Linked DNA regions of Homo sapiens. The protein of the gene in region 4 interacts with the protein of the main gene of each other region in a pairwise test. Each region holds a gene or a part of one and is shown on either strand. Other genes may lie near its edges.

Region 1 (7,761 bases), on a different chromosome or scaffold from region 4:
ATCCCCCTGCATTCCCTGCAGTTCTCCCAGTGCCCGCCCGACTACCACCACATCCACACCGAGATCTCCCGGGAAGGAGCCCGCGTCCTGGCGCTGGGGTACAAGGAGCTGGGACACCTCACTCACCAGCAGGTACGGGCCCAGGCTCCCCCTGCCTTCACCATGTGCCTGGCCCGTCAGCTCCTCCCTGAGTCACCTCCTGTGTCCCACAGTGCCAGGTTGAATGGTTGTGATTTTGTCCTCCTTGCCCCGCCTCCAGCTTCTACCTTTGGAGACTCCAAATGGCACTCAGTCTGTCCACTGCTGTGGGGACCCACCCAGTCCTGGCTCACGCAGAGCACACGCAGGGCTTACCTGCCCCAGTCCTGGTGTGTCCCTAGCTCTACTCTTTTGCCCTGGTCTTGGGCAGGGCTAGGTGGCATCCTCAGCCCTCTCACCCATCCATCCTCCACAAAGCCCACCCTCCGCCTCCACCACCGGCACATCTGCCGCTTGGCTTCTTCCTGGGCTCTCGTTCTTTCTGCTTGCACCCTACAGCTGCGGATCCTTCCAGAATTTAGCCTCAGGTTGCAGTACTGTGTGCAGAGCCCAGGCCACAGCTCACAGCCTGCATGCTCTGCCCCGTTCCTGCACCTGGAGCCCCCTTCCCAGTGACACAGGTCCTCATCGCCTTCATAGTGGCCACTTCTGAGGCCTTTCCACCCTCTCTGGATTCCATTCTCACCTCCTCTCTCATGGCACTCAGCACTCCGATTTCTGTGACTTTCTTGATCATGCGTCTCCCCTGGTGCAGTGTGAGCTCCCTAAGGCCAGGGGTCTGTGCCCAGTCTGTGGTATGTGGTGGAGCCCCAGTGAGTAAGAGTTCCTGGCTAAACTCCAACATTATTGGGAGAGTCCCTACTTCATTGACTTGGAAGCTGAGCCACAAGGGACTCTGTGATGTGCCCATGTCCGCAAGCAGGACATAGAGCCACATTCGGGGGACCCAGACCCCCCAGTCACTGCCAGATCCCACCCCTCAAGCGTGCCTGGTACCCTCCTGGCATTTCTCCCCTCCCAACCCTCGCATGTGCCCACTACGGGAACAGGGCCTTCCATTGTCCCCTTGGCTCCCAGCGCATGGTCAGAGCTCAGGAAATGCAGAGTGTGGGCAGAGGGAGGGACAGATGGTGAGGGTGCCCCTGTCTGTCCGCAGGCCCGGGAGGTCAAGCGGGAGGCCCTGGAGTGCAGCCTCAAGTTCGTCGGCTTCATTGTGGTCTCCTGCCCGCTCAAGGCTGACTCCAAGGCCGTGATCCGGGAGATCCAGAATGCGTCCCACCGGGTATGGGACGGTGCTCGGCTCCACCCTCTGCATGGGAAATAGAGGCGAGGAGATGACAATTACAGCTTCGTGGTAGGGGTGGGCACCCAAGTCTCACAGGCTGCATGTTTTAGCTGAGCAAGATCATAGCTCAGGTGCTAACATTGCCACTGGCCCAAGGACACTCTGGGACCCGCCTGTGCTGGCTCCTCTCTCCTCCACAGACCACTCCCTTCACTCCCCGCATCATGGGAAGATGGGGGCACTTCTCTCCACTTCCCCGTTCCACCGCCGTCCTGGAGAGAAGGAAGCTGAGGCTGGGGAGTTGGGTGGGGGGCACTGTCTGCCTGTCCTGGTGGCTTCTGGTGGCTTGTGTTTTCTATTTTGGGACTTAGGGTGTCTTTTAGGGTGTAAGGGGTGAGTGAGCCGTCTCAGAGGATGATGGCTCTGGGTCACATGGGTGATGTGATTAGTCCCCACCAAGCCCAGAGGTCATGGTCCCATCCTCCTCTTTGCTGAAATATTACCCCCATGGGCAGCTACCAAGCCAAAAGGGTCCACCTCAGGGGCAGGTTGTTCATTTGTATTGCAAATCCAAGCTAAGGGTGTCTTCAGAAGGACGCACATACACGTGTCATTTGTGTAAAATGACCTGGGTGGGGGTGGGTTGTGGCCCTTGGAAGCCCATTCAGCATCTCGGTTAGAGGCCCAGGATCTCCCACTGTGGCCTACCTTAGAAGGAGACTTGGCAGCCTTGTCTCTGGCCTAGAGCTTGGCCCCAGGGTGCCATGCTGAGCCTCTGCCCCTCTTTACCCAAGGTGGTCATGATCACGGGAGACAACCCGCTCACTGCATGCCACGTGGCCCAGGAGCTGCACTTCATTGAAAAGGCCCACACGCTGATCCTGCAGCCTCCCTCCGAGAAAGGTGAGGCCCTAGCCTGGCCCACAGTGGGGAAGGGGGACCCTGAGTCCAAGAACAGCTCCCATCGCAACAGCCCACCTGTGTACCAGGCCTCAGCAGCACAGTGTCTTCAAATGCCTGGCACCACTAATCACAGCCCTGGCCCACTGGGCACCTCGGACAGCATGTGAGCGTTCACTGGGTCGCAGGTCCCAGGATGTGCGGCATGTAGGTGTTTATTTACCATAATGAGGCGATAGTCTGACTGCCAGCTCGGGTTTCCTGTGCACTCATGGGCAGATACTGCTCCTACCACGCTTACTCCCCATCCTCAGTGTCATCCTCATTTCACACCCTCTTTGGCCCGGCAAGCTGCCCATGTACCGAGTGCTCCCTTCCCGAGCACAGGGACTGCTGGCATCCTCAGCCACAGTTGATGGCAGTTTGCCCAGTGCTCAGCCTGACCAGACCCCAGGCGGAGCGCTCCGTGCGTGTTACTGCGTTGGTCCCTCCACCCCATCCTGCACCACACGGGGTGGCTTGCCTTCCCCACACCACAGAGGAGGAAGCTGGCTGGGTCAGCTCTCGGGGCCCTGCTTTGTAGAGAAGGGACAGAGGCTCAGAAGTGAACCCACTTGCCCAGGTCACTTCCAATCCATGGCTAAGGATTGGAATCCAGACAGCCTGATTCCAGAGCTCAAGGCTCCAACCTCTCCCCAGTGACCTCTTTGAGCAATGCCCTGGATTCAGATTGATGAAGAGGCAGACATAGAGACCCAGCCCCTCCCAGCTAGAGGTGTGGGGCTTACCAGATACCTGCCCCAGAGCTAGAGGTGAAGCCCCTGTGGGCGCACGCAGTTCAGGACCTGCATGAGTGTTGACAGGGCCCTAAGAAGAACCACATGGAGCAGTGTTGCCACAGGGCTGCTGGCAGCAAACATTCACAGGTCTGGGCCAGAGCAGCTTCCGGAACCTCCAGGCCACCTCTCAGAGGACTCGGTCCCTGCCCTCCCTCTGTTCTATTGGTCGCAGGCCTCCCCCTGTCCCAGCCCCAGCTACCGGGGTCTTCCAGGGCCTGGGGATTGTGGGCAGGTGGCATGGAGCGGATGAGCAGAACTGTTGATTGACAAGCGAAGCTGGTCTAGCAACAGCTGCAGCACAAGCCAGGTGGAAGTGTGCTGCCCTTCAGCTTGAGATGGTCCAGGGTGAGCAGGCAGTGCCAGGAGGGCTGGCGGGCCGCCCTTGGCCATCCTCAGCGCCCAGCATCCAAGCCAGGGCCAGCCAGCAAGAAAGGGGAAGTGGAGCAAGAAGATGTTGAGAACTCAGGGGCCCTGTCAGAGTTGGGAGGGGGCCCAGCCCCGAGAAAACAGGATTTCAGAGAGGCCACGGGCGCAGGGATAAATGAGGTGAGGGCCTGGTGTGGGGTTTCCCAAGGAGAGCGCAATAGCCCCCTTCTGTGTGTTTCAGGTTAGGGGGCCTTGCATGAGGTGGGGGCATGGCTTAGCTGGGGTCAGACTGCCCAGGTTCTAATCTGGCTGTGTCCCGGGCTCTCAGGCAAGTAGCTCAGGCCCCAGGCTCTTGGTTCCACCCTGTGCACCTGAGGGACATTCTTTGTGGAGTCCCCAGAGAAGGGCTGGGGGTCACCTGGGTGGGTAGGGAGGTGCGGGCTCCAGAGAGGAGAGACTGGCTGGTGCTGGGGTCCGAGTGGAGGGAGGGTGCTTCTGAGCCCGGTCAGCCAAGCCCCCAGCCCTAACCCTAGGTGCTGCCCGCAGGCCGGCAGTGCGAGTGGCGCTCCATTGACGGCAGCATCGTGCTGCCCCTGGCCCGGGGCTCCCCAAAGGCACTGGCCCTGGAGTACGCACTGTGCCTCACAGGCGACGGCTTGGCCCACCTGCAGGCCACCGACCCCCAGCAGCTGCTCCGCCTCATCCCCCATGTGCAGGTGTTCGCCCGTGTGGCTCCCAAGCAGAAGGTATGTGCACAGCCCTAGGGGTCAGGGGCACAGCGGTAGGCACGCAGCCCCTGCTCAGCCTGTCTCCGCCCATACAGGAGTTTGTCATCACCAGCCTGAAGGAGCTGGGCTACGTGACCCTCATGTGTGGGGATGGCACCAACGACGTGGGCGCCCTGAAGCATGCTGACGTGGGTGAGTGCTGTGGGCTAGGGTATTTCGTTTGTGGACGAGGTGTTGAGGACATGTCACTGAGCTAGAAAGACAGACCTGGCCCTTGGTGACAGCCACGGGGGCACTAATTCCTGTGAGGATGGGAGGGGGTGGCAAGGTCAGGGGCTTTGAGGGCAGGAAGGGATGCGAATATCCCAGGAACAGAGCAGGGCGGAGGCCAGAGGCCAGGAGAGAGGCAACAAGTTGGGAGAGTGACTCAGAAAACCCAGAGCTGAAGCCATGAAGATGGTTCATAGCCCCAGATCTCTGTCAAAAGCACACAGATGGCTGAGCACTGTGGCTCCTGCCTGGAATCCCAGTGCTTTGGGAGGCTGAGGCGGGAGGATCACTTGAGTCTGGGAGTTCAAGGCAGTGGTGTGATCCACTCTAACCTAAGTGACAGTGCAAGACCCTGTCTTTTTTTTTTTTGACGGAGCCTTGCTCTGTCACCCAGGCTGGAGTACAATGGCACGATCTGGGCTCACTGCAACCTCCATCTCCCGGGTTCAAGCGATTCTCCTGCCTCAGCCTCCCAAATAGCTGGGATTACAGGCACGTGCCACCATGCCTGGCTAATTTTTGTATTTTTAGTAGAGATGGGGTTTCACCATGTTGGCCAGGATGGTCTCCAATTCCTGACCTCAAGTGATCCACCCGCCTTGGCCTCCCAAAGTGCTAGGATTACAGGTGTGAACCACTGCATCCCACCGAACCCTGCCTTTTTTTTTTTTTTTTTTTTTTGAGACAGTTTCTCTCTTGTTGCCCAGGCTGGAGTGCAATAGCACGGTCTCAGCTCACTGCAACCTCTACTTCCCGGGTTCAAGCAATTCTCCTTCTTCAGCCTCCCAAGTAGCTAGGATTACAGGCGCCAGCCACCATGCCCATCTAATTTTTGTATTTTTAGTAGAGATGGGGTTTCACCATGTTGGCCAGGCTGGTCTCCAACTCCTGACTTCAGATGATGCGCCTGTGTTGGCCTCCCAAAGTGCTGGGATTACAGGTGTGAGCCACCTCACCTGGCCTTTTTTTCTTTTTTCTTTTTTTTTTTTTGCAAGAACTCAGGTGTTAAATTGAATTTTAAAGATCAATCTTACGTTGGTTTTTTTGCTTTTCCAATATTTATCTGCTTTTATCTACTAAAGCATTTATTGAGTGTTGTTTGCCTCCTAGAATCATGCTCCTTGGCTATTTCTTTTGAAATCAGTTTAGGTTGTTTTGTTTTGTTTTATTTTGAGACTGTCTCGCTCTGTCGCCCAGGCTGGAGTGCGGTGGTGTGATCTCATCTCACTGCAACCTCCGCCTCCCGGGTTCAAGCGATTCTCCTGCCTCAGCCTCCCGAGTAGCTGGAATTACAGGCACATGCCACCACCCCTGGCTAATTTTTGTATTTTTAGTAGAGACGGGGTTTCGCCGTATCAGCCAGGCTGGTCTCAAACTCCTGACCTCAGGTGATCCGCCCACCTCAGCCTTCCAAAGTGCTGAGATAACAGGTGTGAGCCACTGCGCTCGGCCAAAATCAGTTTAGTTTTGACCTATCTCGTGTTGTGTGTTTTTTCATTGCATTTGTTGTGGGGGTTTATTGTTGGTGGTTTGTTTTCTTAAAGTAGTTTGTAGAAAGCAACACGGGCACTCTCTGAGGTCTCCTTAGGGTGTCAGGTGAAATGGGGAAGTCTGGGAACTGTCCTCACGGGAGCCAGCTGGGGGACTTCAGGACCAGTGGCTCTGAAGCCAGCAATCTTCCCCTCCGTGGAGCCTGCTCCTCCGGGTCTGACACCCTCCTGCCCCCCAGGTGTGGCGCTCTTGGCCAATGCCCCTGAGCGGGTTGTCGAGCGGCGACGGCGGCCCCGGGACAGCCCAACCCTGAGCAACAGTGGCATCAGAGCCACCTCCAGGACAGCCAAGCAGCGGTCGGGGCTCCCTCCCTCCGAGGAGCAGCCAACCTCCCAGAGGGTGAGTCCCAAGAGGGGAGGTGCTGCACCCCATCCTGGCCAGGGCTGACAGCCTGCTGTCTACCCTGCAGGACCGCCTGAGCCAGGTGCTGCGAGACCTCGAGGACGAGAGTACGCCCATTGTGAAACTGGGGGATGCCAGCATCGCAGCACCCTTCACCTCCAAGCTCTCATCCATCCAGTGCAGTGAGTTGCCTGCCCCCGCTCCCCCTCCCTTCATTCCCCCCTTGGCACCCCTACCCACACCCACACCTGCCTCCCCACCACCCTGCAGTCTGCCACGTGATCAAGCAGGGCCGCTGCACGCTGGTGACCACGCTACAGATGTTCAAGATCCTGGCGCTCAATGCCCTCATCCTGGCCTACAGCCAGAGCGTCCTCTACCTGGAGGGAGTCAAGTTCAGTGACTTCCAGGCCACCCTACAGGGGCTGCTGCTGGCCGGCTGCTTCCTCTTCATCTCCCGTTCCAAGGTGGGCCCCAGAGGTGCTGGAAGGCCAGGGATGCATGGGCCTGCCAGGGCCAGGCTGATATAGGCACGGGAATTGTCATCCCCAAGTTACAGGACCCAGGGCCCCAGAGATGGGGGCTGTAGCTGGGATGGCTCAGGAAATGCTGGCAGGGCAGGTGTGGACTGAGGCTCCCAGACCCCTCCAGGTGGTACAGCTTGGCGTCCACACCTGTCCACAGGTAGGGGTCCCAGGGGTGGGCCCCACAGAGCCCCACAAGCAAGGAACAATCATCAAGAGGGTAAAAAAACAACTAAGTGGGTCATAGGCTACACAGGACAGGCTGGTGGACAGCTGGGGAGGCCTGTGCGACACCGACACTCAGGCCAAGGCGTAAAGAACCAGGGGGGCCAGCGGCCAGGAACTGGACACAAAGGCCCCAAACAGGCATGGGCTGACGCAGGGAGTCCCCGGTGGCTGGAGGGGGTGGGAGATTGGCTGGGCGGGACTGTGCCTGTCCCGTGGGCTCCAGGGAGGGCAGGATCTGCTTCATGATTCTCAGGCCCCTGTGGCTGCCATGGGGAGCCTGGATGGCGGAGCCGGGGCCAGGGAGGCAGCCCTGGGCTCAGGGGTGAGAGGCAGGCAGGGATCCAGGGACTGGTGCTGACCCATGGAATCCCCCAGGATTTGGTGGTGGCTGTACACAAGGTCTCCCGGGAGGCAGGGGATGTTACTGCCTGCTGTGTGGGCAGGGTGGCCCCAAGTGAGCCAGATCCTGACTCCCCCACCCGCCTTGCTGCTGCAGCCCCTCAAGACCCTCTCCCGAGAACGGCCCCTGCCCAACATCTTCAACCTGTACACCATCCTCACCGTCATGCTCCAGTTCTTTGTGCACTTCCTGAGCCTTGTCTACCTGTACCGTGAGGCCCAGGCCCGGAGCCCCGAGAAGTAAGTGCTGCCTTGGAGGAGGTGATGTCCCTGCAGCTGAGAATAGCAGG
Region 2 (7,778 bases), about 130 Mb from region 4:
CCCCTTGTAAGAGGCTTTTGACACCCCCTCCTTACATATAGTCTTCCTGTGAGCCCCATCCAAACCAATCCCTGTAAGTGAGTCTTCTCTTCTGGCATTAGTGCAAACAATTATTTATTTGGGACATGCCTATGGTTCTGCCAGTGGGTTGTTTGGGGAGTGGAGACAGAAGGAGCTATCACATCCACCTCAGATGTTTGAAAGACCTTGTTTGGCAGCACCTCCAGTCCCAAGTAGTGTTAGGAAGGTTATGAGGGGAAAGGAGGGGGAGGGGATGTAGAACAGACCTAGACTGCCTCCCCCAACCCCCATCACGAAGGAGAGTGGATTGACCCCAACACTCACGCTGCTGCCGCTACCCCCGGTTCCCCCAGGACCCTCAACGCCCTGGTCACTCTTCTGTTCCACAGCAAGCTCTGCCTCCAGGATCCTGTCCACAGGCATCTCCTCGGGGGCTCCCCCAGCCCCCTCCCCATCCCCATCCTTGTCCTTTCCCCGCTGACGCTCCTCCTGTACCGCTGCAGGGGGAAGGGGGAGAGAAAAAATGGAAAGTCAGCAGCCAGCCATGAAGGGGTTCCACAAATATCCTTACGGCCTCATCAGGATCTCATGGCCCTTGGGAGATATTTATAGGAATTGGGGAAGTCACTAGAAAGGGTGGACTGGGGGCAGCCCTGAAGGAAGGGTTATAAAAGGGCAGGTAAGTCAGTCGGGAAGGGTGAGGTAGGTAAAAGAATTAGGGAGGAATTTAAATGGAGAGCCTACTACATGGTTAAAAAAAACATGCCAAGATTCAACCTGAGAAAGCTGATTGAAAAAAAAAATTTTTTTAAATAAAATATGCCAAGAAACATGCTAAGCACATTTTACCATTCACTCAATTATCATAATGATGCTGGAAGCATTTATTCTCATTTTTAAGATGAAGAACTCGGGGTTCAAAGAGATTAGTTTGCTTAAATTCATATAATACATGGCAGGTCATACAACTGACTCTAAGTGTGTCTGAGTGCAAATCTTGTGCTCTTCTGACTCAACAAATAGGCAGTGAAAGGAGCACTGGCCTAGGTCTTTGAAGATGTGGGTTCTGATCCCAAACCTGCCTGCCACTCCTTTGTTGCATGACCTTGGGAAAGCCAAGCCTCAGGCTCATCTTCTCTAAAGTGGGTGTTTTGACCAAGATATGCTCTAAAGTGTCTCTCAGAATCCTAGGAATCTGACTTAAGAAGATAAGATGGAGACACAGAAGAAGGAAGGGAAGCCCTGAGGTCTTCAGTAAAGTCTGTAAGCTTAAGAGTGCCCAGTCCCAGGAGTTAGAGGAAAGATCACAGATAACAGGAGACAGAGACCAGAGAAGGTCCATGGAATCAGAGGAGGAACCACTCAGGTTAGAAATGGGGAGACAGCCCATCATGGCTAAGGAAAAGTTATCCTATCCTAGGATCAGTCTAGGGAGGGGTCATATGTGCAGGCCACAGAGGCCTAACCATTAAGAAGGAAACTCAAGGGCCAGAACAGGGTAACAGGGAGGAGAGCTGCGAAGGGAGAGAGAAATCAAATATCGCCCTCTAGAGGAGAGAGAGCAGTCCACCCTTCCAGAGAGGTACACAGTCTGAGTGGGATAAGGGAGAAGGGCATGTGGTCTAAGACGCCTGGGCAGGGCGGGTCCTTACCCTCCCTCTTCATGCCAGTGGCCAGGCACTTCTGATAGCGGCAGTACTGACAGCGGTTCCGCTGGCGCTTGTCCACTGTGCAGTCTTTGTTGTCCCGGCAAGAGTATGTAAGGTCTTTGCGGATGGTGCGTTTGAAGAAGCCCTTGCAACCCTCACAGCTGTAAACCCCGTAGTGTTTGCCTACAGGGAAAGGGGAGGAGCAATAAGAAGGTTGCATGGAGACACCTTCACCATTTAGTCTGTTTCCAATCTCCCCCTAGCAAAACTTAAAGTCCTCCCTGTTTGCCAAATACAGAGATAGGGAACCAGGAGCTGAGTGATGATCCAGTCCCAGTCTCCTCACTGTTCAGAAACCCTACACGCTGCTTCCTTTTCCCTCTGACCTTCCCCCCAATCGCGTCCTACATCTCAGCTTCAGCTTCTTTACTCCCATCAGGCCTCCCCCAGGTCACTTGCTCTGACCAAACTCCATAAGCCCTGGGAATCCCACAGGTGATGATACATGGCCCAGACTCTCCCTCTCTGTTCATCCTCTGAGCCACATACCTGAGCTTCTGTCCCCGCAGATTGCACATAGCCGTTTGCCAGCCCCAGGGCCACCTGGAGGGGGTGGACAGTGCAGGCCCCGGACCCCTAAGACTGGTGGCTTCACATCTTCAGGGGGGCCAGACCCACCCCCAGGGAGTGACACTGTTGAGTTAATCTGGGATGGGGGAAATAGGGAAGTCACAGGAAGACTTATTGGGAAGCAGAATGTCACAGAAGTGATGGAAATCATTCCCTACCACTAAGCAAGGCCCTGCAATGCACATTCCAGAGGCTGTCATTTACACTGCAGTCTATGTGAAAGGCCATCCCTGGAGCACAACCCCAAAGTGAATAAACAGGCCCCCCCTGAAATTGTGCAACACAGTGACCCTGAAGGGCAGGTGTCTTGGGAAAGCAGATGGGATCAAAAGGGCAGAAAATCAGATAGATGAAAAGGACATCAAGAATATCAGAATTAGCCGGGCGTGGTGGTAGGCACCTGTAATCCCAGCTACTCAGGAGGCTGAGGCAGGAGAATTGCTTGAACCCAGGAGGCAGAGGTTGCAGTGAGCTGAGATTGTGCCACTGCACTCCAGCCTGGGCAACAGAGCAAGACTCCATCTCAAAAAAAAAAAAAAAAAAAAACACACACACACACACAAAAACAAAGAATATTAGAGTTCTTTTAGGGGAGGAAGCATGCACTGAAAGATCAGTCACCTCAGGAAAGGCAAGGGGTCTCATAAAGACCACAGGCCTGACAAGGTTAGAGGATTGGAAGGTCAATGGGCCATGGGGAAGTTCACACAAGGATCTGGGGTTACAAGGAAAACAAGAAAATGAAAGTGGCCAGGCAGTAAGTTGGTCACAACCTCTCACCTGGGGGCTGCTGACAGGCCCGGAGAATCCTGGGGGAGCTGGAGGGGGCAGACCAGGGGACCCCATGGAAGAACTGATGACTGGAAAGGGAGAGCCCAGTGGGGGTGGTGGCATCGGGGGTGGGGGTGGGGCCCCAGAGCCTCCAAGGGATGGAGCTGTTGAAGGGGGTAGGGGTGGCCCAGGAGGAGAAGGGGGAGGGACTCCCTGGGGAAGGGGATTTGGGGAGGAGCTGTCTGGGCTTCGGGAGTCTGAGGGAGGGGTATGTACAGGCACACAGACACACAAGAGACAGAAGAGACAAAAAAAGAAAATGAGTCTTCAAACATCCAACTAGAGACTTTAATTCTCTAATACCCCACCGTGCCGGACCCAGCCCACTCCACCCATCCCCAAGTTCAGAGACACCCTGCTGTCAAACAACAGTGTAACTCCGGCTGGTCCGATGGTAGTGGGTTATCAGAACTTATTAACATTTGTGTCACTAAAATTGGTATACAACCTCCCACTGCTATATTTGACTGGCTAAAAAAACCCAAAAACAGCGTAACTCCTCATTGTGGTGAGAGGAGGGAGTTGACAAGGAGAGGAGGATAGTTCAGGTGAGGAAAATTTTCCAACCAATCCATTTGAATGAATACCAGGTCATCCCAAAGCCACACCTGTCTCGTGGGTGGGGCAGCACGTGGGGTAGACCATCGAGCCCCTCTATTCCCAGCGTAAAGCCAGGTAGCCAGAGCGTGCAAGGGAAAGAGACAGGCAGGAGAGACCCCTCCTAAGACGCAGGATCTGCCTGTAAACGCCCAAAGTCCTGAGGTTTAAGAGGAATCGTGCCCTTCCCAGGCCCGCGACCTCCGGTGCCCAAGGCCTCAAGCGGTCACAGCTAGGAGGGCGGAAGCTCCCCTTCCCCGCCCCGCCCCGGGGGGGAGGGTGCTAAGGCCCTCGGGAGGGAGGGGACGCGTGTTTACAAACAAGGGGGCGGGAGCGCAAGGAAAAGAGCACCGGGGGAGGGTGTGGGGGAGGGGTCGCAGATAAAGCGGTCACTGGCTCGCCTGCCCTTCTGCTGGGGCACTCACCCCGCCCGCTGTCGCCCATCCCGTCCCGTCCAGCCTCCCCTGGCTCCGGCTCCGGGGTTTGTTGTTCTCCGCCTGCCACCGCCGCCGCCGCCGCCGCTGCGGGATCCAGCCAGGGCCGTCGCCGCCGCCACCGGGACGCGACCCCACAATGCATTTCTTTTCGCACCCCCACCGGCCCACACTGCCCTGCGGCATGCCGCTGAGGGAGGAAGGGCGGGCGAGCGGCCCAAGACATGATCCCTGGCTGAGAGTAGGGATACCGAAGAGGTCCCAGGGATTCCCAAGGATTGATCGGAGGATTAGCTGAGCACGAGGAAGCCCCTGAGAGAAAGACTCTGGCCTGGATTGGGTCGAATTAAGCCCGTCGCTCTGCTCAGTACCAAAATGACAGCGCCAATGTGGCAGCCATCTTTGTACAGACGGGAAGTCTCGGCGCGAGTTCCCGCCCCCTCGTCTAGTTGGAAACCGAGGAGGCGGTCTCCTCCGGCCTGTTAGCCCGCCTCGCCCACCCTCCCCTCAAATCACCTCCACACTCGCGCATGCGTGTCAGTGCAGGATGGATTCGTCGCTACCGGAGTGCCGCCATATTGGTAAAGGCATTAGGGCGAAGGTGGAACGGAACTTCCTGTTCTCGCGGGATCTAAAGGCGGGACTGCCACGTCCAAGCAAACCGGGAAAGGAGAGGATCCCGGAGCCGGTGAGAATTCTCTGTTTTTTCTCTACCATCCTTTCCAGGCCTTTTCCTCACCTAATGAGTCGTAGAGACGAGGGCCCAGAGAGTCTGTAAAGTGGCTGGTGAAAGATTAGTGTCCCAGGGCCCTACATCCGGGAGGTGGTTCGGGATAAAGAGAACTAGTCTTGGGAACAATGTAGGTGGGAACTTAAGGGAATGGGAGAGCGGCCCATAGAGGTGGACGGAGGGCGCGATTGGAGTAAAGCGGACCCTGTGTAGGTATAGAGTTGAGTCAAGTGGAGTCACTGCCTCTGTCCCTCTGGTCAGCGTGATGGCCAGAGGCCTGGGGGCCCCCCACTGGGTGGCCGTGGGACTGCTGACCTGGGCGACCTTGGGGCTTCTGGTGGCTGGACTCGGGGGTCATGACGACCTGCACGACGATCTGCAAGAGGACTTCCATGGCCACAGCCACAGGCACTCACATGAAGATTTCCACCATGGCCACAGCCATGCCCATGGCCATGGCCACACTCACGAGAGCATCTGGCATGGACATACCCACGATCACGACCATGGACATTCACATGAGGATTTACACCATGGCCATAGCCATGGCTACTCCCATGAGAGCCTCTACCACAGAGGACATGGACATGACCATGAGCATAGCCATGGAGGCTATGGGGAGTCTGGGGCTCCAGGCATCAAGCAGGACCTGGATGCTGTCACTCTCTGGGCTTATGTGAGTCTCCAGGGGATGGGAGAGAGAAGGGCTGGTTCTGGATTGTTGGGAAACTCCACAGTACTTGACCTTGACTCTCCCTCACCAGGCACTGGGGGCCACAGTGCTGATCTCAGCAGCTCCATTTTTTGTCCTCTTCCTTATCCCCGTGGAGTCGAACTCTCCCCGGCATCGCTCTCTACTTCAGATCTTGCTCAGTTTTGCTTCCGGTGGGCTCCTGGGAGATGCTTTCCTGCACCTCATTCCTCATGCTCTTGGTAAGTAACCTCTGACTTCTACCTCAAATCTAACCTATTTCGTTCTTTGGAGGAAAAGGGTTCTTTCTCCTTTATGATCCCTGACCTTTCGATATTCCCCCAAATACACACTCATTGTGTCAGATATTCCCTCATCTGGTTTTCCCCCCTTCTTCCAGAACCTCATTCTCACCACACTCTGGAGCAACCCGGACATGGACACTCCCACAGTGGTGAGGAAGAGACAGATGGGGATGGGAGTTGGGGTGCTGGGGAAGGTCCGTCTCTCCCTATTCCTCACCTCCCGCACTTGAGGAGGAGGAGTCTGGAATGCACATCTCCCTTAATGTCTCAATGCCTCCATTCCCAGGCCAGGGCCCCATTCTGTCTGTGGGACTGTGGGTTCTCAGTGGAATTGTTGCCTTTCTTGTCGTGGAGAAATTTGTGAGACATGTGAAAGGAGGACATGGTCACAGTCATGGACATGGACACGCTCACAGTCATACACGTGGAAGTCATGGACATGGAAGACAAGGTGAGCCCAGGAACAACTTTCCTGAAAGCTGACTTGCCTGCCTCAGAATCTCCTCATCTTATGGCCCTCAGGAGGGAGAGGACATGTTGGAAGATCTGTTCTCCACTCTGACCAACTCTTTTCTTCCCTCAGAGCGTTCTACCAAGGAGAAGCAGAGCTCAGAGGAAGAAGAAAAGGAAACAAGAGGGGTTCAGAAGAGGCGAGGAGGGAGCACAGTACCCAAAGATGGGCCAGTGAGACCTCAGAACGCTGAAGAAGAAAAAAGAGGCTTAGGTAAGGGCCAGAGTTGGTGATAAATTTGGGCAAGGGACATCATCACAAATCACATGGAATATGTGCTGTGGGTAATGGCAGGTATCTGAGAAACACTAAAGGACTGGGTGTAAAGTGGTCTCTGAGGGGAGGTGTGAGAATAGCTGACCAAGACTGGAACAAGTGGTGATGGAAGCCTCTGATCATTTTCTCTTCTTGTCCTGTACAAGACCTGCGTGTGTCGGGGTACCTGAATCTGGCTGCTGACTTGGCACACAACTTCACTGATGGTCTGGCCATTGGGGCTTCCTTTCGAGGGGGCCGGGGACTAGGGATCCTGACCACAATGACTGTCCTGCTACATGAAGTGCCCCACGAGGTCGGAGACTTTGCCATCTTGGTCCAGTCTGGCTGCAGCAAAAAGCAGGTTGGTGATGTCTGCCAAACACAGCTGCCTCAAACCCTTTATCTCTCCTCACTCACCCTAAACCCAAACAGCCTCTTATTAGTTCCAAACAATTCATACTGTCATTGACAAGTCCTCTAGAAATGAGGGGGAAGAAGTTCTGGTTACTTTGTCCTTTAGCTCAGTATTTCTTAAACTGGTCTATAAACCATCTGAATGGTTTAGTGGAGTCTTACACACACACGCCTACTCAATCAGAAAGTCTGTGGAAAGGACCTCTGATCTCTTAAGATTTTTCAGAAATTGTCTATTCTAGACTGCTCCCTCTTCTCTTTTTATTTTGATGTTTAGTTTCCAAATCCATGTCCCCTATACCTATACCCCACCAGCCACTTCTAAACCACTGATAATCTTTAGCTATTGGTGAGTGCCTTTTTCTCTTTTCTGCCCATCAGGCGATGCGTCTGCAACTACTGACAGCAGTAGGGGCACTGGCAGGCACAGCCTGTGCCCTTCTCACTGAAGGAGGAGCAGTGGGCAGTGAAATTGCAGGTGGTGCAGGTCCTGGCTGGGTCCTGCCATTTACTGCAGGTGGCTTTATCTACGTAGCAACAGTGTCTGTGTTGCCCGAGCTGCTGAGGGAGGCATCACCATTGCAATCACTTCTGGAGGTGCTGGGGCTGCTGGGGGGAGTTATCATGATGGTGCTGATTGCCCACCTTGAGTGAGGGGTGGATAAACTACCCCTGCCCCAAACCTCTACCCCTAACTCCAGGTCAGG
Region 3 (8,322 bases), on a different chromosome or scaffold from region 4:
TTAGTAGAGATGGGTTTTGCCATGTTGGCCAGGCTGGCCTCGAACTCCTGACCTCAAGTGATCCACCCACCTCAGCCTCCCAAAGTGCTGGGATTACAGCCGTGAACCACTGCACCCGGCCATGGCTATTATTTTTAAAAGATTGCTCCAGCTGCTTGGTGGAGAGAGGATTAGAGGGGGAAAGACGAACAGAGGAGGACCAGTTAGGAGGCTGCTGCAGGTAGGTAGGTGGTGATGATGGTGGCTGGACTAGGGTGGCAGAGGGAATGGAGAGAGAGGACAGGGCAAATCCAACTGTATTTTGTAATGAATTTGTTGTAGGAGCAGAGGAAAGGGAGGACTCAGAGATAACACCTAGGTTTGGGTCTGAGCCACAGTAAACAAAGACATGCCCCAGGGACATCAGAGGTCTCTCTGCATGGGGATTAACAGGAGAGGAGGAAGCCCTGACATGTCCAATAAACTCAATCATCTGGAAGATAGCTCAGTAGGTGTATCCTTGACCCAGCATTGTGGGAGAAGATATGTCTGGAATGTGTATATCTGCGGGGAGTGAGAAAGGAATGTCAGCAGTCAGGATGTCTGCAGATGGGGAATTAGAAATCTGTCTTAGTGTTGGTGGGACCCAGTTCAAAAGAGACTTCAGAAGGATTGATGGTTTAGACGGGTAATCTATATAGGACCTGTTTAGATGAACTTCAGTGGAATGAGGGATGATGTATTAGGATAATAAGGTTAGCTGTAACAAGCAACTGAGCTGTAACAAAGCCACTGACACTTCTCACTCATATTCTATAGTCCAGTGAGGGTCTAGGGGACAGGGGTAGCTCTGCTCCATCCATTCATTCAAGCCTAGGTTCTTTCCATTATGTGGTACATATGGCCTCTAAAATTGTCACAGAATGGGAAGAGGGAATGCAGGTTGTATGGAAGATTTTTAAATGAGCCCAGCCTAGAAATGGCGCACATTGCTTCTGCCTTCATTCCATTGTTCAGAACCTGATCCCATGGCATCCGTTTGACTGCAAGGAAGCTGGGAAGTGTAGTTCAAATTTGGGAGGTACTGTGCCCAGAAAGAGACACACAAATGTTGGTGTGTGTTGTGGAGCACTAGTAGTTTCTGGCGCAGGCAGGGAGAATGGCTGTGCATCTTGTAGGGGTCGTAGTAGTGTCTGTCCTGGGCTGGGTTGGGAGTGTACTCTCTGAGAATACCTTGGAAGGAAGCTGATATGAGAAGATGTGTATGAGTGGTGCACACCCATGTGCTTTATGGCTCAACAATCATTCCATTCTTTCCCATTCTCAAGGTCTTTCACTGGATAAGATCTTAATTCTCTCACACCTTACCACTGAAATAACCTTGTGAATGCTTTATCCTCTACAATTTTCCCCCATCAAATCTAACTGGATATTATAGTCTAACTAATCTTCCTAAGACTTGGCGTATGTCATGCAATCCCTGTTCAATAAAAACAATAACAATTTCAACAGCAGCAGCAATAATTTGTTGAATTACTGTGTTGAGCACTTTGAGTGTATTATCTCAATATATCTCGATCTTTGTAACAAGCCTGTGATGTTTCATCATCATTCCCTGTGTACAGATGGAGGGACAGGAGTCCTGGGTCTAGCTGTGCTAACACAGTAGCCACTAGTCATGTGCAGCTACTTAAATTAATTAAATTAAATTTAAATTAATTTAAATTAAATACACTAAACTTAAATACATTAAATTTAAATTAATTTAAATTAAATACAATTAAAAATTCAGTTCTTCAGTCACACTAGTCACATATCAAGTATTCAATAGCCACCTGTGATTAGTGGCCACCATTATGGAGGGTGCAGATATGGAATATTTTCTTCCAGGCAGAAAGTCAATTGGATTGGACATCTGTGAGTTAGGGGCACTTGCCCAGGGTCACAGCAAATGGTGAAGCTAGGCCTCTGACCCCACCTGAGTCTAATGCTCTGCAATAGCTCTTCATTGTTTCCACAATTTAAAAAATGTTTAAGCCTGGCCTTAGCCTTGTACAACCTGGTCTAGTACTACTGTTACATAATTATTTCTCTTTCTTTTCTTGCGCAATCTCACTTTCCAGCACAGCAAGCTTGCTCACTGCTCTCCCATACTCCTAATATGTCCACTCATAATATTTTTGCTCTCCTCCTTCTGTCTGCTCAGCTAATGAATTCTCCCCTGACCTTTAGGTTCAGATAGCTGAAATAGCTCTTGAAGCAGTTTCGTCTCTTCCATTCTCTCTGCTTCTGCCTGGACCAGCTCTGAAGCCCCTCATCCTCTCTTGCCATGGCAGCCTTCTGCTGCTACTAATTCTACTTCCTGACATTTATTGAGTATCTACCATGTGCTAGGCACTCTTCCAGGCACTCCTCATCACAACACTTTGAAGTAGGTGTTACTGCAGTCTCCATTTTAAAGACCTGGTAATTAAAGCACTGTGGGGTGAAATTTGTCCAACTCATCTCTCTGCTTCTAGTGTTTCACAGGCAGTTCGCCTTCACTCTATTACTCTGGCCATAGTTCTAAAACACAGAATTGTGAGTTTTCTCCCCCAGCCCCAAGGGGAGGGGGACAGCCTTCTTAACAGAGCATGCAAGGCCCTTTATGTTCAGAACCTTTCTAATCTCCAAACCCGCTACTCTACCTTCAAACTTGACATTCCAGCCACAAACGACTTACAGTTTCCCAAAGCGGCCGCTTTATTTCTTCCCTCTGCGCCATCACACGTGCGGTTCCCACTGCCTGGAGTACTGTCCATCCTGGCCAGCTCTGAAGCCATCCATGGAAATGCACTCCGGACCACGGGGCTTGCTCCCTCCTCCACAGGACCAGCACTCACTCTCCACCGGCAGCTCCTAAAGGAGGGCTGCTGCTGAGCTCACAGCCTTGACATCACTTCTCATTAAAATACACACTCCAAGATTCAAAATTTAATAGGCAGGGGTGGGGCTGGGTTTATTTTTTTATTTTTAAAGAAGCTCCCAGATTATTCTAGAGTGAGGCAAATGTGCTTAACACTGGTTTACATCCCTTGTTTGGCAGTTAAGCACACCCTGTCTAGATTCCTTGTGTATAATTGCTTTTGTTTTTATTTTATTCTTACCTTCATTCACTCACACTCACCTATTCAACAAACATTTATTAAGGGGTCATTATATGCCAGACATGCTTTTAGATGTTGATGTGAACAAAACTGGCACTGTCCCTGCTCATGAAGTTTATGTTCCAGAGGGGGTGTGGTGGGTGGGATAATAATGGCCCCCAAAGATGTCCACGTCCTCATCCCAGAACCTATGAATATGTCACCTTCCACGGCAAAGGGATTTATTTTGCTGATGTGATAAAATTAAGGATCTTGCGATGGGGAGATTATCCTGGACTATCCCCTCAATCACAGGGGTCCTTAGAAGGGAAAAGGAGGAAGAGGGAGTTAAGGCATGTGGGTAGCCTCACTCTAGAAGCTGGAAAAGGCGGCCGGGCACGGTGGGCTCACACCTGTAATCCCAGCACTTTGGGAGGCTGAGGTGGGCGGATCACCTGAGGTCAGGAGTTCGAGACCAGCCTGGCCAACATGGTGAAACCCCATCTTTACTAAAAATACAAAAATTAGCTGGGTGTGGTGGTGGAAGCGTGTAATCCCAACTTCTCGGGAGGCTGATGCAGGAGAATCACCTGAACCCAGGAGGCAGAGATTGCAGTGAGCTGAGATCACGCCACTGCACTCTAGCCTGGGTGACAGAGCAAGACTCCGTCTCAAAAAAAAAAAAAAAGTCAAGGAAACTGATTTTCCCCTAGAGCCTCCAGAAACAAGGCAACCCTGATGTCCCCTTGATTTTAGCCCAGTGAGACCATTATTTGGATTCCTGACCTACAGAACTGTAAAATAATAATAAGTTTGTGTTATTTTAAATCAGTAAATTTGTGGTAATTTGTTACGGCAGCACACACACAAAAAAAACTAATGCAAGGGGTATTGGTTATGTTTTGTGCAGGTATATGATGGGCCTCCCCATGTGGATCCTTAGTGCTGTGGCAGAGCCCTTGTTATTGTGCTGGGATTTTCCCTCCAGCTCCCGGCCGGAAGCTGGGCTCACGTGGGAGCTCAGTGCCCTCCTGCTACAGATCTGTCTCTTCCTTACAATGGTATGATCCCGAGGGTCAGGGTGAGGGGTTTGGGAGGATAAGGCTTGTGCTGATAAAAGGAAAGGTGAGGTCCGTTGCAGTGGCTCAAGCCTGTAATTCCAGCGCTTTGGGAGGCCGAGGTGGGAAGACAGCTTGAGGCCAGGAGTTGGGGACCAGCCTGGGCAATATAGCGAGACCCTATCTCTACAAAAAATAAATAACAAAAAATACTAGCCAGGCGTGGTGGCACACACCTGTAGTCCTGGCTGCTTGGAAGGCTGAGGTGAGAGCATTGCTTGAATCCAGGTGTTGGAGGATGCGGAGCTATGATGGCGCCACTGTACTCCTGCCCGGGCAACAGAGTGAGACTCTGTTTAAAAAAAAAAAAGTAGGGATTTGTGGGGAGCTGTGCGTGAGGATAGAATGTATAGAATGTTTGCAGTCAGAAGGTGATGGTCGCAGGGGTTCCCAGACTTTAGTGTGTGGAGAAATCCTCTGCGATATGGTGGGAGGGAACCTGGTTGATAGAAGGACGGGCGGAAGGAATTCTATTCACAGCGTACTCTAATATTTCTTAAGTTTTACCTATTAATTTTTAACAAGAAATTTTAATTTTAATTTTAAACGAAAATACGCATCGTACTCAGAGGTAAAGATTTTTAATCCTCGCGGTTCGCTCGTATAAAGGCATATTTCCGGTCCCTTCCAAGGTCCAACAATCCGGACACGGCGGGTCTGGGGATGGGCCCAGGAATCCGCCTTTTTAGCAGCATTCCCCCAAACGACACGGCAGCTTCGCAAAGCGGCGGTGGCGTCTGCGGTTCCGGGCGCGGGCGGCCTCCGGCCGGGGAGGGCGCTGTGCGGGCGGCGCTGGGGGCGGGCCGGGGGCGGAGCGCGGGGCGCCGGCTGCTCTGGCGGCTCCCGCGGCTCCGGCTGGCGGCTTCGGGCCCTGCACCTGTGACTCTCGGCCGCGCTCGCCCTCGGCCCGCCCGGCGCCGCAGCCCCATGGCCCCGTCCAGGCTGCAGCTCGGCCTCCGCGCCGCCTACTCCGGCATCAGCTCCGTGGCCGGCTTCTCCATCTTCCTCGTCTGGACGGTGGTCTACCGACAGCCGGGGACCGCGGCCATGGGAGGGCTCGCAGGTACCCCGGGACGCTGGGCGGCGCGGGGCGGGTGCGCGGCTGCGGGGCGGGCGCCGTCAGCTGCTCCAGGACGCTCCCCGCGAGCGGCGCTTCCCCGCGGAGCGGGTGGAGTGTTTACTCGAAAACAGCGGTTGGCGGCGGCAGGCCCCACGCGGGCCCGGGCTCCTGGGCATTCCTGGGTGCCTCTGAGACCCGATGCCCGCCCGGGCGCCACCTGGGGGTGCCGACGGCCCGCCACTGCCGGCTGCACAGACCTGCCGCGCCGCCCGGGTTATCTGTCACGGCACACTGCCTGTCGCCCTCCGCCCAGTTGCCCCACGACAGTGTCCCCTCCGCGCGCCCGCGGCGCTGGTCGCCTCCTATCCCCAAACACACACACACACACACACGCACACACACACGGTTGTTCTGAGGGATCCCCTGCCCCCCAGGCGCCCCTTCCCTGGGTGCTGGGTGAGGGCAGAGAGGGAAGAAGTGGGAAAGGAAGAGGGCTAGGGGTGGCTGGGGAAGCCCATCTCCCTCCTTCCAGAGGGCTCCCCCGCAGAGCCCTCTGCTGAGACCCACAGGGAGGACGGCGTTAGGGATCTCATAGAAACTGGACATTCTCTTTCCACCCATGTTGGTGCCTTTTTGCTACCCGTCTGCTGTGGCTCCTCAGCCAAGCTCTGCCAAATCCTGCAGGCCAGCCGCCCTTTCTGTGCTTCTGGGAGGGAAGGGGAAGCATCGGTGCGCTGATGGGGGCTCTGGGCTGACCAGTGCTCCTTGTTGTGCACATTTGGGCTCGCAGTTTAACCTCTCTGCGCCATAGAATTGGTATGAAGATGAAAAATATTATCTCTACTTTCTAACATTTTAAAAAATGCTTTCTATGTGTCAGGCACTATGTTAAGCAACCTGCTTCCCTTATTTCATTTAATCCTTACATTAGTCTCATGAAGTAGGCCTTACGATTATGTCCATTTTACAGATAAGGAAACTGAGGCCTGAAGTTAAATAAATTGCTTACCCGGGATTACACAGCTACATGAAATAATATGTGTGGGAAAGGACTTTGGGAAGAAAATACGTATAATACTTTTACATATGATGATTATATTCCATTACTAAAATCCTCGGCCAAAAGAACCCTAAATGGAATAACTAAAAATAACTAATTTACTCACTGCCACAGGGAGTGCTGAGTGCCATCCCTGGGTAGAGTCGCAGCATGAGGTGGGGTTAATGCCTTAGAAGAGGGGCATACAGGGCCCCACCCTACACAATGCCAACAAAGCACTGGGTCACCAAGAAGGGGGGATGGGCACCCTGGCTAGGGTGTTCTCTGCCTGCCCAGCTGCCTCACCACCTGTGGGATCCTGAGGACAACTGGCCCATCTCTGCGCGTTATCTACAGAGCCCTAGTTCCTTTCCCCACTGCACCCCGCCACCCTCCATGTTTGTCAAGGTTCACTTCTCCCTGCCACTTTTTTGTTTCCTATTGGCCCTGTTGCTTTCCCCTCTGGAAGGCGGCGTCAGAGCCCTATGATTGCATTGCGAAGACCGAAGGCAAGAGAAGGATGAGCAGGGAGGGCCAGCCTGGGATCTCAGCTGGTTGTGTTGAGTCTGGCCTGGTACAAGTGGAGGTGAACCCTACCTGGCCGTTTGACCCTATCCTGGGCCACAGTTTCCTCATCTATTAGGAGTGGGAGGAGATGTCCCCAAAAGACATCTGACTTCCCTCCAGATCTGAAATCTTGCAGTGCTGCCCACTCCCTGAGTCTCCAGCTGCCTCCTAGAGGGCTGTGGAAAAGGCCTTCTTTCTTATACTCTAGGGAGTTGCCTGGGGTTTTCTTCCGACCCAACTCTGCCCTCTCTCCCTCCCCACAGGCTTCCCTTGGCCTATGAGGCAGGCCAGCTGTGGAGCTGCCTTCAGAGAGAGGCGCTAGGGCAGCAGCTCGCTAGGGCAGCAGCTCGCTAGGGCAGCAGCCAGCTGGAGTAGGGTCCTGGTATCTCCCTGATGGTCTGATCTTTGACAGTGGCTGTGGAAGAGCCAAAACTGCTTGGTAGTGGTGGTGGTGGATGGTGGCAGGGAGAGGGGTTGCCAAGCCTGGGCCTCCGACCTTCCCCACCATGAGTGAGTTCTCAGAGGGTCTGTGGCCAGTCAACCTTCTTCCTCTTTTGGGGGTAAAGTGTCAGCAGATTAACTAACGTGTGAGCACCCTACTTCTGACTCAGCGTTTTATAGCTCAGAATCTGCTGAGTCACCCAAGGGTAGCCCCAGCATGCTCCTTCTCCTGTGTTGGACCAGGCAAGGACTGATTGGATGTGCCAGTTTCTGGAGCAGAGTCATGGAGCCCCTGGGTCTGGTGGGCAGAGTGTTCACGGGTGGGGATACCCTCTCCCATCCTGATGGGTACCTTCGAAGAAGTGGCTTTGGAGAAAGGCAGTGGCAGAAGCAAGACTGGCTTTCCTGGGGAGGCGGGCAGGTGTGGGTTGGATCTACCTGGTCTGGCTTTGCTGTGGGAGTCCTGGGGGAAAACACAAACTCTTGCTCTGGGTTTAGTAGACCAAGGAAAGAGAAAAAGAAAAGTTGCTCCTGAAGTCTAAACAGCTCTATGTTTTTCCCAGGTGAGCTGTGAGCAAGAGCCCTGGGGCTCCAGGACTGTCTTCCTCCTAGGAAGGAATAGAGGGGCCTGACCTAGGCCCAGTGTCCTTCTTGTCTGCATTTACCCTGTGGGATCCCCCGGGTGTCTCCTGTCTCCTCACCTCCAGCCCAGCCACTGGGGATGCTTTCACCGCCCTACCCTATGCCTTCCTTACCCTTAGCTTATCGGCTGTGAGCCAATAAGCTCACATGGCTAAGCAGGGGCTCTGCTCCTTGAAACAGGTAGGATGGAGCAACGGTGTGGTCTGGTGTGGGCTTGCAGCCAGGTGGGATTGGGGACCTGTCCATTCCACCCCGAGTTTTATAAACCAGGCTTCCTAGAGTCCCCAAGTGTGCCAGGGAAGGGTATTAGGGAGATACATTGCCTCCTGCCTGATGTGTGGGAGGGGACCA
Region 4 (7,761 bases):
CTTTCTGCTGCTTCCAGTGACCTAGGTGCATCTGACCCTCCCCCACATGCTGGCCCCACACTTGGGGACCCGACTTGCCACTCCACCCCACTCCTCTGCACTCCCCCCAGGCCGCCTTCTTAGGGGCCCCAGCCCCAGCAAGGCCTTGGAGCATCCCTGCCACCTCCTGCCCTGGTTCCTCCTGCACCCCACCCCACCTGGACAGTGGTCAGCCCATACGTGATGCAGATGTAGCCTCTAGGAGGAAGCCCACCCTGGCCTCCCCTGCTCCCCCACATCCACAGGGCCCCCACCTGCTGCTCCCAGAAAACCCACCACTGCCCAGGATGCCCCAGAGCCCCGTCCACAGACACTGACCCTAGTGACCTGTGATGTGTGTGGCTTGTGGCTCACACTGCCACCTCCCATCGTCCCGTGGGCTCCTTGGAAGGCTCTGCATGTTTACACCCCAGGCCCAGGTACACGGGAGTGTGCCTCTGCTCACAAGCACATCTGAATAAAGGTTTTCAGTCATGAAGAGACTGCTGTCCTAGGGGTAGAGAGTCTTGCACCCCAGCTCGAATGGGCGACTTGACTTAAGCAAAACCACATCATCCTGAGGGAATGGTGCCCAGAAGGAACCTTGGGTGGTTTTCCAGTTTTGCATCATGAATCTGAATAAATGCTCAGAGAAAATACATCAGACTCAGAGGCGACATCAAAGCCCTCTTGGCCCTCCCGTCTCTCCCAACTCATCTCTCTTGGCTCTGGCCCATTGGCATCTAATGAGCCCCACAGTTGCCTTGGCCAGGGACCGCCCCCTGCTGCCACAGAGGAAGGGGCCTGGGCTGGGGACTCACCATTGTTTTGTGTCTGCCAGACGGCATCTGCCACGCCCCACAGGCCAGAGAATACGAAGAACACTGCCAGATGGTCAGCACGAGGTCTCCACAGCAGTAGGGCAATCATGCAGGACACGTGGGTCACCGCGCCTGGGGGTGCAGAGGGGAAACCGCCAGGCGATGAGGGCCATCATCATGGCCTGGAGGGGCCTGGAGGTGGGTCAGTGCTGGAGCAACCATCTCAACCGTCCTCTGGAACTGTCCTCTGGAACCGTCTCAACCATCTCAACCATCTCAACCGTCCTCTGGAATTGTCCTCTGGAACCATCTCAACCATCTCAACTATCTCAACCGTCCTCTGGAACCGTCTCAACCATCTCAACTGTCTCAACCATCCTCTGGAATTGTCCTCTGGAACCGTCTCAACCATCTCAACCATCCTCTGGAACCATCTCAACCGTCCTCTGGAACCGTCCTCTGGAACTGTCTCAACCATCTCAACCGTCTCAACCATCCTCTGGAACTGTCTCAATGTTTGCTTCATGCTCAATGTTCCCTTAATGCTCTGGAAGTCGTCTTTTTAGTTGGAACCTTGACATTTAATTTGTGAGCTGATGTGTATGCGTGCTGCTAGCTCTAAATCAATGCTCTGCACCATACACCTGCTGCGTGACCCGCAGCCTCAGCCTGGAGGGCCTTGGGTGTGGTCTGGCATCATGTTGGGAAGGAAGGTCACCCTGTCTGGGCCTGAGGTTGCCCCTAAGCTAAGAGGGTTTAAAGTCAGAAAGAGAAGGGCCTTCTCATTAGGTATAAATTGAAGCATCCCAGCACCTTTCCGAGTAGCCAGGGGGTAGGACAAAGTGTGCCCATGGTTTCATCTGAGCCTTCCAAGTAGGGGCATGGGGACAAAAGGGAGGAGGCCACAGACCCCCCAGGCAGGTAGCATCTGTGGGCCCCACCTTGTGACTCGTCCCAGCAGGTCACAGATTTGGGACCCCAATTTCCACAGGCTGTGGCATCTCTAGGATGCAGTAATGAGGCTGCCCATTGACGCTCAAGACGCCACAGAGGAAGAGCAGGGTCTCTGTCAGCGGAAAGGCAGGTCCACACCGCATGCCCCAGGGCTGTGCCACCTTAGGCAAGTCCCTCCACTTCTGCACTCCATGATCTCCTATTTGTAAGGGAACACTGTCTGCTTCACAGGGCGCCGTGAAGACGGATAGGAAACCCCAGGCAGAGCCTCCAGGCTCCATGGCCCTGGCAGATGCTCACCGTGTGCCCTTCCTCTGGCTGCGCCCCCACACCCAGCCCTGCCTGGGGCATTGACATGCCAGGCGCTGTTTTTCGTAGTGCCTGCATTCCTCATTGTTCACGTGATCTCTGACTCATCTCTTCCCTTCCCTTCCCAAGAAAAATGGAAGGTGCTGTGTGTTTAGGGAGGAGTCTGTGGCCTTAGAAGTCTTGTCCTTATCCACTGTGTGAATAGATGTGGAACAGAGCTGCCCCAACCCCAGCGTGTCTTTCCGTGAACCCCATGGCCTCACCACTGGCTTCGTGTCCCTCATTTGCACCTGCAGAGACCCTGCCCTGCCCCACCCTGGCCTGGTCACCACACCGAGTGCCCACTCGGAGCAGGCACTTGCTGTGTGGCCTCATGCCGAGCACAGTGCCTGCCCAGAGCCAGCTTGGGGAGAGATCTGATTCCTGCTTGTTGAGGGGGTGAAGAAAGGACTGAAAGAATGAATGCATCTTACAGGGCGTTACTGATTTCAAAGCAGTTTCAGGGGCACTTTTCCAGCCTGTCCTGACTGTGAGCTGTGCGCTTTTGCTACTGCAAATCGTTATGACAGCTGGGATGGGACCCACGCTGATACCTACCCAGCACGTACAGCACAGCCCTGCCCGTGTACTGCGAGACCTTTCCATACAACACGGAGCACAGCGCGTCAGTGGCCGAGAAGCAGATCATCACGTAGCCGACGAACTGGATGCCCAGGGTGCAGGTGACATAGGACTGGGGAGAGGGGTGCAGAGCCACGTCATGGACGCTCCCAGGCCTCCCGTGCTCAAGCTAAAGCTGCAGTCGGGTGCTTAGAACATCTGCTCTGAGATGGCCAGCAGGCCAGTGTTGCCTACACCTTCCTCTAGGCTCTGTGGCTCCCATGCAGGAGAAAAGCTGGTGTTTGTAAGAAAATCCTGTTTGGGGAGAACTAAAAGGAGGCAGTTTGGACAACTGCAGACAAAATTCTTTCTCATGTATTTCTCACTATTTGCTGTGAAATGGGCACTATTTTATATGGAAGCCAATACACCCTGCCCTTGCTGGGGCCAATCATTACCTGTTAGGTCTAAAGAGAGTTAAAAAAAAAACAGAGAGAGAAAGAGAAAATGAAAAGATTGCCCTGACACCTCTTCCGGGGCCTCAGAGCAGCCCAGCAGCCGGCTGCACATGTGTCTCATGCCCACCGCACCACACTCCCATCACGGGCGACCTCAAGGGCGGGCACGCAGAACAGGGACTGAGACGAGAAGACCAGCCACAGCCACATCAGGGGGGACAAGGACAAGTCCAGTGGAGGAGCAGGAGGGGCTGTCCCCAAAACGCCAAGTAGACCTTTCTGTTATCCTGTTTCTACTCTTTTAAGCTCCTAAGATTCTCCATCAAGGCTGTCCTAAAAGTAGCACTGCCAGATAAAGTTGAGGACACCCACTATGGCCTGGGCATACTCCTGGAGAGACATTTGTGGTTTATCTGAAATTCAAATTCTACCTGCTGAGGTGCTTTTTATCTTGCTAAGTTGGCAGCCTTGCCTGGGAGGGATCTGGAGCAGAGAAGTTTCCTCCGGAAGGAGAGCCTCTGCCAGACACAGGCCCTTGCTGGTCCAGCTCTGGCCCCCAGCTCTCAACAGCCTCCAGGAGTGGCTTCTTTCTTTATGCACCCTGAGGTGGGGCACCGCCTCTCTCACCTTGAGGGGAGAAGGTGGCAGGAGTGGATGGAGCAGAAGCTTCAAGAGCCACATCGATTTTTAGATTGTGAAGCATGATTTGAAAACTAGAGGTGCCAGGCACAGTGGCTCATGCCTGTAATCCCAGCACTTTGGGAGGCCGAGGCAGGCAGATCACCTGAGGTTGGGAGTTTGAGACCAGCCTGACCAACATGGAGAAACCCTGTCTCTACTAAAAATACAAAATTACCCAGGCGTGGTGGCACACGCCTGTAATCCCAGCTACTTGGGAGGCTGAGGCAGGAGAATCGCTTGAACCTGGGAGGCAGAGGTTGCGGTGAGCTGAGATGGCGCCATTGCACTCCAGCCTGGGCAACAAGAGTGTTACTCCATCTCAAAAAAAGAAAAAAAGAAAGAAAAAAAAAAACTAGAGAGATAAGAAATTTTGGTGGTATTCATGGACTTAATGCTTTTCCTATATGTAAACTCTAAAGTAAGAGTGCAGGGTGAGGTCCAGGCAGGGGTAACACCGATGAGTGTCTGTGGGGTGAGTCAGCGGCAGCTGCCCATCCACTTGTTCCGGCTCCTTCCCCAGGAAGACACGGATCAAGCAAGACGTTCTCCCTTGAGACAAGAAGTGGAAGCTCCTGTGAGTTGGAAGTTACTTGGAGGTTGAGACCTTGAATCATAAACTCAGCTATGGTAGCACTGGGAGCATAGGACCCCGCTCCCTCCAGCCCCAGCCCTGGGCAGGTGGCCTGAGACACTCTGCGGTCCTGCAGGTACAGACACAGGCAAGGCAGTGATGCCACGCATGGCCTGAGCCACCGGCCCTCACTTTCGTTCATACCCTTGTGTATTCGCTGGAGAGGAATCCTTGCTGCAATCCACTGTACAGCGGCAGCAGAATTAAGAGGCACAGACGTTTATCTCTATATAGCTTGAAAGTCGACAGTAAAGTGGACCAGAAAGGTACTGATTTCTTCTCTCCTTCACTTTCCCGCTGAACATCTCGTATGGGTTGGAGGAACGCAGCTATCATCAGGACAGCCAGGACACCACTCCCTGAAAGGACATAGCAAAGGCTTCAGCTTTCATGGGGGCCCAGAGGCAGGGTGCCTGGCAAGGATTTGTTTCAGTCACTCATCCTCCTCTCGCGAGGGAGGGCTAATTCAGATCCAGATTTCAGGCGACATTAGACACAACATGCTTAAGGATCTCAGGTGTCTAGTTGCACTTGATCGTGCTGATTCTCTGATTACCTCAAGACTTACCGGCTTTCACATGAAACCTGCCACAATAGGTCAGTATTGTCCTCACCGGCATAAAATACAAAAAATTCCGGAGCGACCCCAGAAGTTCTGAGTGTCCTTAACCATTGGACTCTGCTTCTCATTCTAATCCCCAACGCAATTTCTAACAGGAGACAGCTTTTTATTGATTTTTTTTTTAGGATAATGATTCCCACAAGGTACCATTTGCTACACTTTTGTTTATTTCAAATAAACAATTTTGTGCAAAAGTCCTCCAATAAGAACTGGTTAAAGATATTAAGGGGTATCTGAACTACAACAGAATGTTGTGCATTTGAAGAAAATAAAAAAGAAGCTCTTTATACACGGATGGGAAAATCCCCCACCATAAATGGTAAAAAGAGAAAAAACAAGCAAGATGCAGACCTCTGTGTAGAGTGCGCTACCAATTGAATTTAGTAAGAAAGGACATAAAGATGTGCTTGTTTATATGTGCATTAAATATGTCTAGGAATAAAGCAGGCATGGACTTTCTATGGGTGCAGAACGGGGTCTGAGGACGGCAGTGAGAGGGAGACTCCCCACCGCACACCCTTTTACAGTGCAGTGCTTGCCCACCCAAAGGGGTTCATTCCAAGGCCCCAGCGGATGCCTGAAACCACGGGTGGTGTCAGACTCTACATGTACCACGGATTTTCACTCTGACAGCAGAGGTGGCTACTGAGAGACTATGGCCCGGGGAGCATCTATGGTGCGGACACGCTGGACAGAGGGAAGGGTCACAGCCTGGGCGGGGTGAGCAGGACGGCAAGAGATTCCATCACACTACTCAGAACAAGCGCAACTTAAACCTTATGAATTATTTATTTCTGGAATTTTCCACTTAAGGTTCTCAGACCGCAGCTAGCCTCAGGTCACTGAAGCCACACAAAATGAAATGGGGACAAGGGGGACTCCTGGATTTGCATTTTGAACTATATAAATGGGTTATCTATACAAAAAAATATTTTAACTATTCATTTCATCCATGAGGAAACATCCTGTACTTTCTCATAATTCCAAAATATGACTAAATCTCCATCTGCCCACCACTTTATTATTTGATCCACCTCAATTTCTGTCGATGGAGAACTGATGTTTATTTAGGCGTTTCTCACTTTACTAGAAGCCCTTTCGTCCCCTCATGATTGTAAGTGCCGTCTGTGATACCATTGCATCTCCACTGTTTTCCTCCCACCTGGCAGTGGTAATGATACACAGTGTTTGGGGCACCACAGATGACTCAAGAGTGGTGGCGATCCTTCCCTTCTCTCTGGGCCAGAATCTTTCAGAACGGTTCATTTCTACCTCCGAGAACTTAGACCCCTGCTCCTCTAAAGACGACGGGAATTATCCTATCTTACTGTGCCTGACCAACCTTATCTAGTGCTTTCTCTCTCAGCATCAGTGTCCTCGTGTGACCCATGCAGTGGACTTGCTGCAGCACTGTGCCCGGCAGCTGAGCGTTCCTGAAACTGGGAGGTTTGCAAAGCCAGCTCTCTTCCAAGCTGTGTGCAGAAACAGCAGAATCCTAGCACCTGTCTCAGAAAGCACCATTGGTAATGTGGTTCCACCTAGAAATGCAGATTTATTTCTAGGCTTTACTTTCCGTTATCTGGCTACTTTCCATCTTGGCTAAACATATTCCCCTTCCTATTTCATAACTCAAGATTCTCATGAAGTTTGTGAAATTTCGTATGAAAGCAGGACTCCTGCTGCCACAGGTGTTTCTTGGTCACCCTTGATTTTCCTCTGTGTTGTCCTGGCCACCATGTGGTCTGGCAGGTTGTCACGCCTGCACAGGAGGCCATAGGGTATTTACAATGATCAGGGCCCCCTTCCAAGCCGACCCCCTGAGCTGACTGTGTGTAGACCATGTGGAAAAGGCACATTTTTCCTCCACTCACTGAAGGCAGCGCCTTCTTCACAATCTCGTCTTGTGGGCCAGGACTTCAGTGTCAAGCAGCCCAATAGGACACAACCTACAATCTCCCCGAAAGCCTTGTGGGAAGGGGAGAGGCAGGTTATGAACACAGAAGCCACACCCCTTTGTTCAGAATTATGTATGTCCGGGTGTCATGTGACTCAGAGCCTTCTGTGGGGCATGAATTGGGGGATGCTGCACAGCTGTGTCCTAAATTCTAAAGAGAATGGCTCTTTGCAAGAAACTTGACTATGAATGCAATGCTCAGAAACCCAGGAAAGTTACCCAGGGAGAGGGTGTTCTTGTTCTTTTAGGTCCATTTTTCTCTCTTCCTATGTTTTTCTTTATGGAGACATGGTCTTGCTTTATAGAAAAGGACACACACAGGATCCTGCAGGACTGTTACAATCACAATAGTAAGACCACTTCTTCATTTACATGTGTGTGATCTCTGCTCTACATAACTTCTAGACTTGGACTCCCTTAGGCTGCGGGATTCCGTGAACCGAGATGGGGCTGTGGCCAGAGAGCACACTGGGGGTAACCCTGCAGGGGAGGTTCCACAGACAACAGCCACCTGCGGAGGACAGCTGGCAATGAAGGGCCTGGAAGCCACAGAGAAGCCTGTGCTGTTCCTCTAGAGCAGGGGCCAGCAAACTATGGCCTGCGGGCCAAAGCCTGCCCACTGCCTGCTTTTGAAAATAAAGTTTTATTGGCATGCAGGCATGCTCATTTGCTTACATGTTGTCTATGGCTTTTTCCCATTACAAAGACAATGT

The links.
Region 1: the proteins of UNC93A (region 4) and ATP13A1 interact in binary tests that used the Homo sapiens proteins (3 or more experiments, as listed by UniProt).
Region 2: the proteins of UNC93A (region 4) and SLC39A7 interact in binary tests that used the Homo sapiens proteins (3 or more experiments, as listed by UniProt).
Region 3: the proteins of UNC93A (region 4) and SLC48A1 interact in binary tests that used the Homo sapiens proteins (3 or more experiments, as listed by UniProt).

Annotation. Positions count from the first base shown.
Region 1 is NC_000019.10:19,646,155-19,653,915, reverse strand, and holds part of ATP13A1 (endoplasmic reticulum transmembrane helix translocase), read left to right. Parts: intron 1-21; coding exon 22-132; intron 133-1,195; coding exon 1,196-1,321; intron 1,322-2,118; coding exon 2,119-2,227; intron 2,228-3,975; coding exon 3,976-4,175; intron 4,176-4,252; coding exon 4,253-4,349; intron 4,350-6,156; coding exon 6,157-6,317; intron 6,318-6,387; coding exon 6,388-6,502; intron 6,503-6,590; coding exon 6,591-6,787; intron 6,788-7,568; coding exon 7,569-7,711; intron 7,712-7,761. UniProt on the Homo sapiens protein: Endoplasmic reticulum translocase required to remove mitochondrial transmembrane proteins mistargeted to the endoplasmic reticulum.
Region 2 is NC_000006.12:33,196,089-33,203,866, forward strand, and holds the start of SLC39A7 (zinc transporter SLC39A7 isoform 1 precursor), read left to right. Parts: upstream 1-4,778; 5' UTR 4,779-5,157; coding exon 5,158-5,568; intron 5,569-5,656; coding exon 5,657-5,825; intron 5,826-5,983; coding exon 5,984-6,037; intron 6,038-6,174; coding exon 6,175-6,339; intron 6,340-6,471; coding exon 6,472-6,612; intron 6,613-6,821; coding exon 6,822-7,018; intron 7,019-7,452; coding exon 7,453-7,725; 3' UTR 7,726-7,778. Other genes in the region: RXRB (retinoic acid receptor RXR-beta), read right to left, coding at 346-518, 1,674-1,853, 2,220-2,376, 3,081-3,328, 4,154-4,388. UniProt on the Homo sapiens protein: Transports Zn(2+) from the endoplasmic reticulum (ER)/Golgi apparatus to the cytosol, playing an essential role in the regulation of cytosolic zinc levels.
Region 3 is NC_000012.12:47,768,156-47,776,477, forward strand, and holds the start of SLC48A1 (heme transporter HRG1), read left to right. Parts: upstream 1-5,082; 5' UTR 5,083-5,149; coding exon 5,150-5,285; intron 5,286-8,322. UniProt on the Homo sapiens protein: Heme transporter that regulates intracellular heme availability through the endosomal or lysosomal compartment. In macrophages of the reticuloendothelial system, is the heme transporter for heme-iron recycling.
Region 4 is NC_000006.12:167,300,989-167,308,749, reverse strand, and holds part of UNC93A (protein unc-93 homolog A), read right to left. Parts: intron 4,832-7,761; coding exon 4,617-4,831; intron 2,836-4,616; coding exon 2,700-2,835; intron 972-2,699; coding exon 840-971; intron 1-839.